Linked DNA regions of Homo sapiens: region 2 is linked to region 1. Evidence: fine-mapped QTL for protein levels in blood plasma. Region 1 holds a variant in brackets. A gene starts in the other region. All regions are shown on their reverse strands.

Region 1 (2,605 bases):
TATGTAGTTAGAAACCAACTGGAAACATTGCCAGGAAAAAGAGCCTTAAAAGTGGGAGAAAAGTCAGAGAAAGAGTACGCTAATATCCCAGGGGCTGCAATTTTGCTAATTTTTAAATTTTGTGTATAATTCATTTCAGTCTCTCCTCCACCAACATCAGTAAACTCCTCAGAAAAGAAAATAAAGCATTCCATAATATATATTTATGGAATGAATGCATGAACTCAGGCATCTAGATGCAGTAAAATTCTCTACTTTGAATTCCCTCCCTACTAAAAATTATCATGAAAAGATAAACAAGAACTGTGGCCCCTTGCTGTGCAATTTGACAAACAAGTTTCAGTATTTCACTATAGTGATCACCACCATAAAAAGTGGTGAAATCTTTAAACACATGCACAGTGATTACCTCTGACAGATCATCATTGGCAAATCTTAAAAGAAGAAACGAGAGTGTAGGCCTTCAAAGATGAAAGATTTTCAAGACAGATAAAAGGAAGGCTTTTTTGACCATGTCGGAAAGTTTGTATCAGACACTCAGGTTCCCTAAATCTAGCCACAAAATGGACAAAATCAGGTTGGATAATGAACTCTTTTTTTCTATTCTTTTGCATAATACCTTTGGCAACAGGCAGGCAGCTTTATCAGCAGCTTGGCAACATTCTGTAAAAGCAGCTTTATACCTTTTAGCAAAGAAAAGGAGTTCCGGGGCATAAAAGTAAGGATGTCTTCTGGCAATTTCATATAAGTATCTAAATTTTGAAAAAGAAAAACAGTCACTTTTCTATAGCAGACAATATTACAGAAATAATTGTAATCGACATTCTCCCCAGAACCTCCAAATTCCAAAGATATCTAATTAACCAATTAAGCTCAATTTGCACATGATGGTCTTGTCTCTGTCATTCTTTAAGTATGTGGAAAAAAGGGTTAAGTGTGTGTGTGTGTGTGTGTGTGTGCATAAATGGTTAAATTTTGGCAATATAATGTTGCTGACTAAAACGAAATCAATTATAACAACCATATATACATATCTTCGTAATACATTAAATAATTTGTCTATCTTAAATTTTTCAGAAAGATTGTATCCTGTTTCAATAAACTTCAAAATATCTTTGATCATATTTTTTGCTGTGTAGAATTTTGTGGTATCAAATACTACTTCTTTAAAAAATCATCATAACAAAACTTCCAAGTCTTAATGTTGAAAATATTTTTGTTATGGTAATTTTTATAGAGTGTTGGCCTATGGAGTTACTCCATGCTTTTTAATTTTGAACTATAAACATCTGATTACTTACTTTTTCAAAAATGTCTCTTCATTGTCATGAAAAGCAGTGCACATCACATCAACCTCTGGTCTCACCAATCGGGGGAGGTTTGGGTTGTCATCTTTGTGTTGCAAGAAGCATTCATTTCTCTCAGGTTCTTGTTTTGCACAGCAGTCAGCCATTTCACCA[T/C]AGGTTTCACGAAGAGTTGCAACTGTGCATAATTTGTCTCCAAAAAGGGTATGCTAAATGGAAGAAAGCAGGTTTCAGTTGCTGGACAGTACCTTTTTTCTTTATAGCCAAAGAACAGTACAAAGGATTTAATATACTGGTTAAGCTTGGTCAGGAAATCATTTAAAAATCCGCTTCCCCTCCCAATCGAGGTTTACAGTTTCTGATGATTTAACCATCTCTATATAATTTTCATAAGAATTAACTGTCACACTATAACTCATGGTGAATAAAACAGGACAAAAAGACAGTCAATAGCTTTAAGGAAAGTTATATGACTCCTATTTTGAAACTTAAAACTAAAGGGTAAGAGCAATCATTATAACAGAAATCAAGAGAAAATAAGCTTCTAAGCAGCAGGTGAATTCACCTAGGGGAGAAAAACATTCAGAGAGTTTCTCATTTCATTTGCCCCCTTTTTAGAGGGCCATGTTTTAGTATATGCCATTGAAAACTGAGGAGTAACACAATCCATCATATATTAAGTGACTATTAAGATATAGACATTTTTCTTCCAGAAATGTTACCTAAAATCACTTTCCAATAAATGAGTCCTTTCCTTATCTCTAATTTTTATTATGAAAGTAACTGTAACCCCAGGGAAAATATACTACTCTAGACAGAATTTATTAATTTTTATGTATTTTTAAGATTTCATATGTAGAGCCATAGTATTGTGTAAAGTTAAAGTCCTGACTCTGCTGTGAGGGAGAGGTACATAATAAAAAGGGGAAAGGCTCCAGTGATAAAAACTGGCCTTGCCCACAAGAGGTATATATAGATTGAGTGGTGAGAGAAAGATAAACCTGTCCTTGTTTTGAAGATTGATCTGGAAATACTAAAAGTTTAAAGTTCTTCAACATGACTAAGTACTCTGCTTTTTTATTGTATGTAGAAATACAAAGATATCTAAAATGAGGAATATATAGCTGTACTATTATTCCACCCAGGTAACAAAATTAGCATAGAAATCAGTGGGTGTTTTCTGATGATAAAAACCATGATATCATCTCTAAGAGATAGTAGCTCTCCTGTGTTCATTGCAACACTATTCATGATAGTCAAGATGTAGAAAACCAACCTAAATGTCTATCAATCAACAAATT
Region 2 (8,531 bases), not on the chromosome of region 1:
GTCAACGACAGAGCGAGACTGTCTCAAAAAATAAATAAATAAAATTCAAAAATCAAGAGAAACATCCGATCCTTCCTGAAATCTGTATGTATGTATATCGGAGAGAAGCGCCCTAACCATAGAAGCGTATGACTGGGGCCGGGCGCGATAGCTCACACCGGTAATCCCAACACTTTGGGAGGCCAAGGCAGGTGAATCACCTGAGGTCAGGAGTTCAAGACCAGCCTGACCAACACAGTGAAACCCCATCTCTACTAAAAATACAAAAATCAGCAGGGCATGGTGCCACGTGCCTGTAATCCCAGCTACTCGGGAGGCTGAGGCAAGAGAATCGCTTGAACCTGAGAGGTGGAGGTTGTAGTGAGCTGTGATCATGCCACTGCACTCCAGCCTGGGCAACAGAGCAGGACTCCGTTTCAAAAAAAAAAAAAAGAAAAGAAAAAGAAATTGGTTACTGAGATCTACAGAATGCTGTTTTTTTCAGTAAGTCAAGCGTTTAGAGGTCTCTAGTGAGAAGATTGTCATGTCAGCATGTTCAAGGTGATGAGCATCAGCTAGGATGATTGAGGTTGTTTGCAACAACCTCAGTGGAGAGTGGATAGTGTGGAGAAGGTCTGTGTTAAATGCTACACAGATAACACCATTGTGGACCTTAAGAAGCTGATTACAGCCCAGACTAGGGCTGTAACAAGAACAACCCTTTCAGGAACAAGACTCCTGAATAAGTGGTATACAATTTTTAAGGACCACATATCTTTGGGGCACTATAAAATCCAGCAGAAGATGAAGCTGGAGGTCTTTTTGTTTGTTTGTGTTGTTTTGTTTTGAGACGGAGTCTCACCCTCTTGCCCAGGCTGGAGTGCAGGGATGCTATCTCAGCTCATTGCAACCTCCACCTCCCAGGTTCAAGCGATTCTCCTGCCTCAGCCTCCTGAGTAGCTGGGATTACAGGTGCCTACCACCATGCCCAGCTAATTTTTGTATTTTTAGTAAAGACAGGGTTTCACCATGTTGGCCAGGCTGGTCTCAAATTCCTGACCTCAGGTAATCTGCCCGCCTCGGCCTTTCAAAGTGCTGGGATTACAGGCATGAGCCACCGCGCCTGGCCAAAACTGGAGCTTTATTATCAATAGGTTAGAATTCTTTCCCCCTCCCACCTTTCTCTCCCACCCTCACCCCCCACACTGGTATACATGCTTGTTTTTAAAAACTCACGTTAATAAAAACTTAGATGTCAGGAAAAAAAAGAGTTTAATCATGAAACCAAGGAAGTTTCTACCATTAAGCTCCCAACAGTAACCTAGAGAAATATATCTAACATAAAGAGTTTCCACAGTTAGAGGACAAAAAGCTGTATCGGCAACTGAAAAATACAGTCATCCTAAAGAGATCTGACACATCATCTATTCTGACAAAAGATTTTTAAAGTGGCACTGCTCGAGTCGAAATGGTTAATTACCTAGCAGAAATTGATTTCTCTATCTCCGTAGCACTCAAAGCAGCTGGCAGGCTCTTGCAATAGTCATTCGTTTTCGTGGTGACAAGAATGGTTGCGCCTTCCTCCATAGCTGGGAGTGGAAAGCAATGGTCAGAGTCGACCTTCGGTTTGCTCTTGATGCAGTCTTCACAGGTGCATTCTTCCACCGTGTACTCGAGGCCTCTCGGAAGAATAATTTCATCACCAGTCCTGCTCTTTTCCAGGTCAATGTTAGCCATGCCCAGGAGACCTGATCCTAATTATGTAGAAACGGAAACATTAACCCAAACTTCACAGAGAATGTGGTCATGAGAGTCTTAGCAGTACACATCGGGACTCAAAGCAATGTGAGAGAGATTTTTTCATTTTTTAGAGGTGGGGTCTTACTGTGTTGCCCAGGCTGCATTCAAACTCCTGGGCTCAAGCAATCCTCCCACGTTAGCCTACAGAGCAGTCGGGACTACAGCTCCATGCCACCACACCCAGCTTGAAACAGATCTTTTCAGTAAAAAAGAATGAGTATGTGCTGGGCCCTGTGGCTCACGCCTGTAATCCCAGCACTTTGGGAAGCTGAGGCGGGCAGATCACTTGTGGTCAGGAGCTTGAGACCATCCTGGCCAACATGATGAAACCCTGTCTCTACCAAAAAGTACAAAAATTAGTCGGAGGTGATGGCACATACCTATAGTCCCAGTTACTCAGGAGGCTGAGATGGGAGAATTGTTTGAACCCAAGAGGCAGAGGCTGCAGTGAGTTGAGATCACGCCACTGCACTCCAGCCTGGGCCACAGAGCGAGACTCCATCTCTAAATAAATAAATAAATAAATAAATAAATAAATAAATAAATGCATACAGAAATAGGGCAGTGGCTGTACATGCTTGGGAATCCAATCATGAGCAAAGGTGCTGCAGAAGTATTTTTATCTTAAGAGGCACTTAAGTAGAACATTCATTTTTCTGGGACTGGTTCTCTATTGCTTAAAAATAATTATTTTTTAGATGATTCCTCAAATAATTCAGGAGCAACTGGTTATTCATTTCTAACATTTTTCAGTAGTAAAATGTTCACTCAAGCAAAGAACACCTATATTTGTATAAAAACATGACCATAGATCTTGACAAATATGCTTTTCCTGACAGTAGCAGACCTGGCTAGGAGTTTCTGATAATGTGGCATTTAATCGATGTGCTAACTTTAGTCAAAGAGACTGATGTTTCCCAAGAAAGCCTTAGTACTTTCAATAGAGTAATTAACAGTGGAAGAATCCTGGAGAAGACTGACATTGTAGAAAATCTGCCAAGGTGTCAAAATCAGAATGAAGATGGCTCACCTCTACCAAGTTCATTTAATGTAACAATGTTCTAACACATTCGAAAGGGCTGTAACGAAGTGAAATAGTCAACGCTAAAAAAAGAAAAGGAACTGAAACTCACAATAGCCATCCCCTGGAAATAGATTTCAAAGATTCACCATCAAACCAACCTGTGTTTTTAAACTCGTCCTTTAATGGTTCAGAGTTTATCTTCCTTAGCAAAAACATTAGCACGAAAACTGCCAAAGAAATTATTAAGCTCAGTCCCAAACAGGTCCAGAGAATCGCATTCGTTCCTTTCACTGAATTGGTCACACCTTTATGAAAAGAACATCAGACAGATAATGAGCTGATAACATAATATTCACATACTTTATTGTTATTATTTATTTATTTATTTTGAGACAAAGTCTTGCTCTGTTGCCCAGGCTAGAGTGCAGTGGCGCGATCTCGGCTCACTGCAACCTCCACCTCCCAAGTTCAAACAATTCTCCTGCCTCAGCCTCCCGAGTAGCTGGGATTACAGACCTGTGCCACCATGCCCAGCTAATTTTTTGTATTTTTAGTAGAGACAGGGTTTCACCAGGTTGGCCAGGCTGGCCTCAAACTGCCGACCTCAGGTGATTCACCCACCTCGGCCTCCCAAAGTGCTGGGATTACAGGTGTGAGCCATCCACCGCACCCGGCTGTCATACTTGATTATTTTGCTAAAATAATGAATTATGGATTGTTTTGATAGCAAAATAATCAAGTATGGATTATTTCCATTCAATCACCTTAATTAATGAACATTGACTTTTAAATTCTAAATATCACTTAATTAGAAGAGCTGATTTTTAAAAAAAATCTATGTTGCTAATAGTGCTGAATCATATCAAGTTCAGTTCCAAATAATTACTTTGTTTCCATAAACATTAAAATCACTGCCTTGCTTCCTTTCTCTTTTTGATTCAAGAAAACTCACCATCATGCCCATTATGTTGATTCTCTGAATAAGCAGTCCATATAGACAGAATAGTTCACACCAATGAATAATCGTTCAAGCAATATTACTTACTTGCATTACAATAACGCTGACATGTTAGAGGAGGAGTATTAGAAGAACATCGAAGTTGACAAGGTATGCAAGCATGCAACAAACTGTCAAAATATTCATTTTGGGAGCACTGCCCAGCCATCTGCAACATGATCACAAAAAGAAAACAAGGGAGCTACAGAAAGAACAGCCTGGAAGGACAAGTAATATCTCTACAAGAATTCCAGAGCAAATGCAGCAAGAGCAGCTAGAATGTTGAGAACAATGAACTTCGCCTGCTTCGTGGGTTCTTACGGGGGCTGTCTGTGTCTTCGCGGCAGCTAAGGATTTGAATACCACATCTAATTCAAGTTTCTAAGTTTGAGTCTTGGATGGGGTAAGAGACAGGGTGTAAATATCAGGGCATATCACATCTGAAACAGAAACTGCTTATTTATAGAAGAAATTTCTCAGCCAGGTGACAGTTGCAAGATGCAGACAAGCCCACAGCATCAAGCCGAATGTTCAGTAACAGTTTCTGGAACATCTGTTAATAAGCTGTACTCTGTGAGAGGTGCCAGGGAGATAGACAAGACAAGGTCTGTGCTGTGCCCCTTAAGATCTTAACATTGAGGCCAGCTGCAGGGGTTCACACCTGTAATCCCAGGACTTTGGGAGTCAAAAGGCAAAAGGATTGCTTGAGCCCAGGAGTTCAAAATCAGCCTGGGCAACATGGCGAAACCCTGACTTTACAAAAACATTTTAAAAAGTAGTCTGGTGTAAGCTGGGCGCCGTGGCGCTCTCCTGTAATCCCAGCACTTTGGGAGGCCGAGGCAGGTGGATCACTTGAGGTCAGGAGTTCCAGAACAGCCTGGCCAACATGGTGAAACCCCGTCTCTACTAAAAATACAAAAATTAGTCAGGCATGGTGGCAGGCACCTATGATCCCAGCTACTCAGGAGGCTGAGGCAGGGAGACGTGCTTGAACCCAGGAGGCGGAGTTTGCAGTAAGCCAAGATCAGGCCACTGCGCTCCAGCCTGGGTGACAAAGCAAGACTCTATCTCAAAAAAAAAAAAAATTCTACAGGAAGATCAGAGGTGATGCACTAAGGAAGACGCACAATGCCACTGACAGAAAAAGAGACATTTAGGGTAAGAGCTCGTGGAAAGAGGGCTGAGAGGAAGATAGGTTTGGGGTATTATAATAATAATACAATAATCTATGTTCCATTGTTGAAAATTTAGAAATACAGATGAGCAGATAAAACCATTTTAAAAATCCACAGTCCAAGCATCCAGAAGTCATCACCGCTAACACCTGGTGTATCCCAGAAGTTGCAAACAGACCTGCCGATGCGATGTCTTTTGTTTCACCGATCCCTGAATTCTAGATAGATACATTTATATAGTGCATTTTTCTGTTTACATAAATGGATCACTTGAATTTGCCTTTTTTTTTTTTTTTGACAGAGTCTCACTCTGTCTCCCAGGCTGAGTGCAGTGACACAATCACAGCTCACTGCAGCCTCCACCTCCTGGGTTCAGGTGATCTGCCCACCTCAGCCTTCCAAGTAGCTGGGACTACAGACATGCGCCAGCACGCCTGGTAAGTTTTGTATTTTTTGTAGAGATGGGTTTTTGCCGTGTTGCCCAGGTTGCTCTCAAACACTTGGGGTCAAGTGATCCACCCACCTCGGCCTCCCAAAGCGCTGGGATTACAGGTGTGAGCCACTAAGCCCAGCTTGAATTTGCTTTTAACCATACTGAGTGAAATACCCATATAGAGACGTCCAGATGTTTGTCAAAAATGCAGGACTCAATTAAAATTTGAGGAAATGGCAAACTCCTAATTCAGTATAGTGATTATCTCTGAGGTAAGTGGTGGGGAAGAAGGGGAGCACAAAAAAGGCTTCACCTGTGTTTATTATATTTTCTTTATTAAGCTGAGTGGTGGATACATTGATATTTGTTGTTTTCCTTTTGTTGTATTTTTCTTATTCTTTACACTTTCTTAAGGCCCAAGGAGTGTGCCAAGGAAACCTGCCATCCCTTCTACTTTATTTCATCCTCCAAGCACCCCAACCTTTAAAAACTTATTCTTTTTTTTTTTTTTTTTGAGCTGGAGTTTCACTGTTATTGCCCAGGCTGGAGTGCAATGGCGCGATCTCGGCTCACTGCAACCTCCACCTCCCAGGTTCAAGCGATTCTCTGGCCTCAGCCTCCTGAGTAGCTGGGATGACAGGTGCATGCCACCACGCCTGGCTAGTTTTTGTATTTTTGGTAGAGACGGGGTTTCACCGTGTTGGTCAGGCTGGTTTCGAACTCCTGACCTCAGGTGACCCACCGGCCTTGGCCTCTCAAACTGCTGGGATTACAGGCATGAGCCACCTAGCCTGGATGATTTTTTATTTATTTGTTTGTTTGTTTGTTTGTTTGTTTTGAGATGGAGTCTCCCTCTGTTGCCAGGCTGGGGTACAGTAGTGCGATCTGCAACCTCTGCCTCCCGGGTTCAAGTGATTCTCCTGCCTCAGCTTCCGGAATAGCTGGGATTACAGGCATGCGCCATCATGCCCAGCAAATATTTGTATTTTTAGTACAGACAGGATTTCACCATATTGGGCAGAATGGTCTCAGTCTCCTGACCTCGTGATCCACCTGCCTTGGCCTCCCAAAGTGCTGAGATTACAGGTGTGAGCCACCGCGCCCAGCCACTGATAATTCTTGTTTTTAAAATTCATATTATTAAAAAATAAGTATTCAAACAGTGCCAAAGATTTTTCAATGAAAAGTAAGTCTTTTTCCTACCCTGGATTTCCTCTCTCTTGCCAGAGGCAGTAATTACTGTCAGTCTTCCTCTTTTTTTTTGGTTTTTTTTTTTTTTTTTTGAGACAGAATCTTGCTCTGTCACCCAGGCTGGAGTGCAGGGGCGCTATCTCAGCTCACTGCAAGCTCCGACTCCCAGGTTCATGCCATTCTCCTGCCTCAGCCTCCAGAGTAGCTGGGACTACAGGCACCCACCACCATGTCTGGCTAATTTTGTTTTTGTATTTTTAGTAGAGATGGGGTTTCACCATCTTAGCCAGGATGGTCTCGATCTCCTGACCTCATGATCCGGGATTACAGGCATGCGCCACCATGCCCAGCTAATATTTGTATTTTTAGTAGAGACAGGGTTTCACCATGTTGGGCAGAATGGTCTCAATCCCCTCACCTCGTGATCGACCCGCCTCGGCCTCCCAAAGTGCTGGGATTACAGGTGCAAGCCACCGCACCCAGCCTTTTTTTTTTTTTTTTTTTTTAAGACAGGGTGTTGCTCTATTGCCCAGGCTGGAGTGCAGTGGCACCATCAGGGCTCACTGCAGCCTCCACCTTCTGGGCTTAAGCGATCCTCCCACCTCAGCCTCCTGAGTAGCTAGGACTACGCACATGCCACCATGCCCAGCTAATTTTTGTATTTTTTGTAGAGATGAGATTTCATCATGTTGCCCAGGCTGGTCTTGAACTCCTGGGCTCAAGTGATCTTCCTGCCTCAGCCTCCCAAAGTACTGAGATTACATGTGTAAGCCACAGTGCCCAGCCACTGTCAGTCTTCTGTCTTTCCAAATAGAGCCTCTGTTTATGTCTGTCTATTCAGACCCTACCTATTTTATTTGTATCCACCCAGGAGGCAGATAGAGCATATTATACAACTGCTCATACCTTTTTTTTTTTTTTTTTTAAACAGGGTCTCACTCTGTCACCCAGGCTGGAGTGTGGTGGCAAAATTTCAGCTCACTGCAACCTCCGTCTCCCAGGTTCAAGCCATTCTCTTGCCTCAGCCTCCCTAGTAGCTGGGATTACAGGTGCGTGCCTCCAGGCCTGGCTAATTTTTGTATTTTTAGTAGAGACGGGGTTTCAGTATGTTGGCCAGGCTGGTCTCGAACTCCTGACCTCAAGTGATTCGCCCGCCTCGGCCTCCCAAAGTGCTAGGATTATAGGCGTGAGCCACTGCGCCTGGCCTCTTTTTGTATTTTTAAAGTAGTCCATAATAAATGCTAAAATCATGAAAATAAAATGCAGAAATTTAAAAAAATACTTTTTTTTTTAAATGCAGGACTTGAGCCTAGGAAAGATTTTGAACTTAGATATTGATCAAAACGTCAAATTCCTCTGGGGTCCAGGTGGTGAGGTAAGTGGGAGAGGCTGCCTAGGCAGGACAGGGAGAAGCTGAAGCAGCTGGCCCAGGAGGCTCCACTCCCTCAGCCTCTGCCAGATTGCTGACCTTTGGAAGACAGGCAAAGGAGACAGGACAAACATGATTAGAGAAATAGGGAGAGAACAAAAATTATCTCCCAGGCTGGGTGCAGTGGCTCACACCTGTAATCCCAGCACTTTGGGAGGCTGAAGCAGGTGGATCACCTGAAGTCAGGAGTTTGAGGCCAATCTGGCCAACATGGTGAAACCCAGTCTCTACTAAAAATACAAAAATTAGCCAAGCGTGGTGGCGTGCATAATCCCAGCTACTTGGGAGGCTGAGGCAGGAGGATCGTTTGAACCTGGGAGGCAGAGGTTGCAGTGAGCCAAGATTGCGCCACTGCACTGCAGTCTGGGCTACGGAGTGAGACCGTGTCTCAAAAAAAAAAAAGAAAAGAAAGAAAAAAAAATCTCCCATAACAGTCAAGCAAGGAGAGATTTTAGCCTGAGTTAGGGAGTGGAGTCAAATTCTACAGGAAGATCAGGGGCGAT

Which allele goes with the higher level. Positions count from the first base shown, and alleles are read on the strand shown. Strength reflects both the effect of a copy and how common the allele is.
In carriers of allele T in region 1, the plasma level of the protein whose gene starts at base 4,093 in region 2 tends to be higher than with C alone (weak association).

The links. PIP is the chance, under the fine-mapping model, that this variant and not a neighbour inherited with it causes the effect. The UK Biobank Pharma Proteomics Project read protein levels with antibody pairs (Olink). The fine-mapping took linkage between variants from a reference panel, not from the people measured, so its PIPs are less certain.
Region 2: it holds the start of TNFRSF17, and the variant in region 1 is fine-mapped to the plasma level of the TNFRSF17 protein (UK Biobank, PIP above 0.99).

The regions. Positions count from the first base shown.
Region 1 is chr4:73,407,502-73,410,106 of GRCh38, reverse strand. It overlaps ALB (albumin), which reads right to left. Exons shown (of 15, transcript NM_000477.7): 4 at 1,302-1,513; 5 at 620-752. Among named protein-coding and RNA genes, the nearest start is that of ALB, 4.5 kb to the right of the region's middle. The variant T/C (reference allele first, on the strand shown) is at 1,461.
Region 2 is chr16:11,960,772-11,969,302 of GRCh38, reverse strand. TNFRSF17 (TNF receptor superfamily member 17) reads right to left here and starts at 4,093. Exons shown (of 3, transcript NM_001192.3): 1 at 3,849-4,093; 2 at 2,962-3,108; 3 at 1,235-1,733. The coding sequence starts at 3,978. The coding sequence ends at 1,456. It also overlaps a transcript of NPIPB2 not described here and the pseudogene UBL5P4. RefSeq lists enhancers at 3,866-4,305, 4,426-4,545 and a silencer at 6,057-6,226.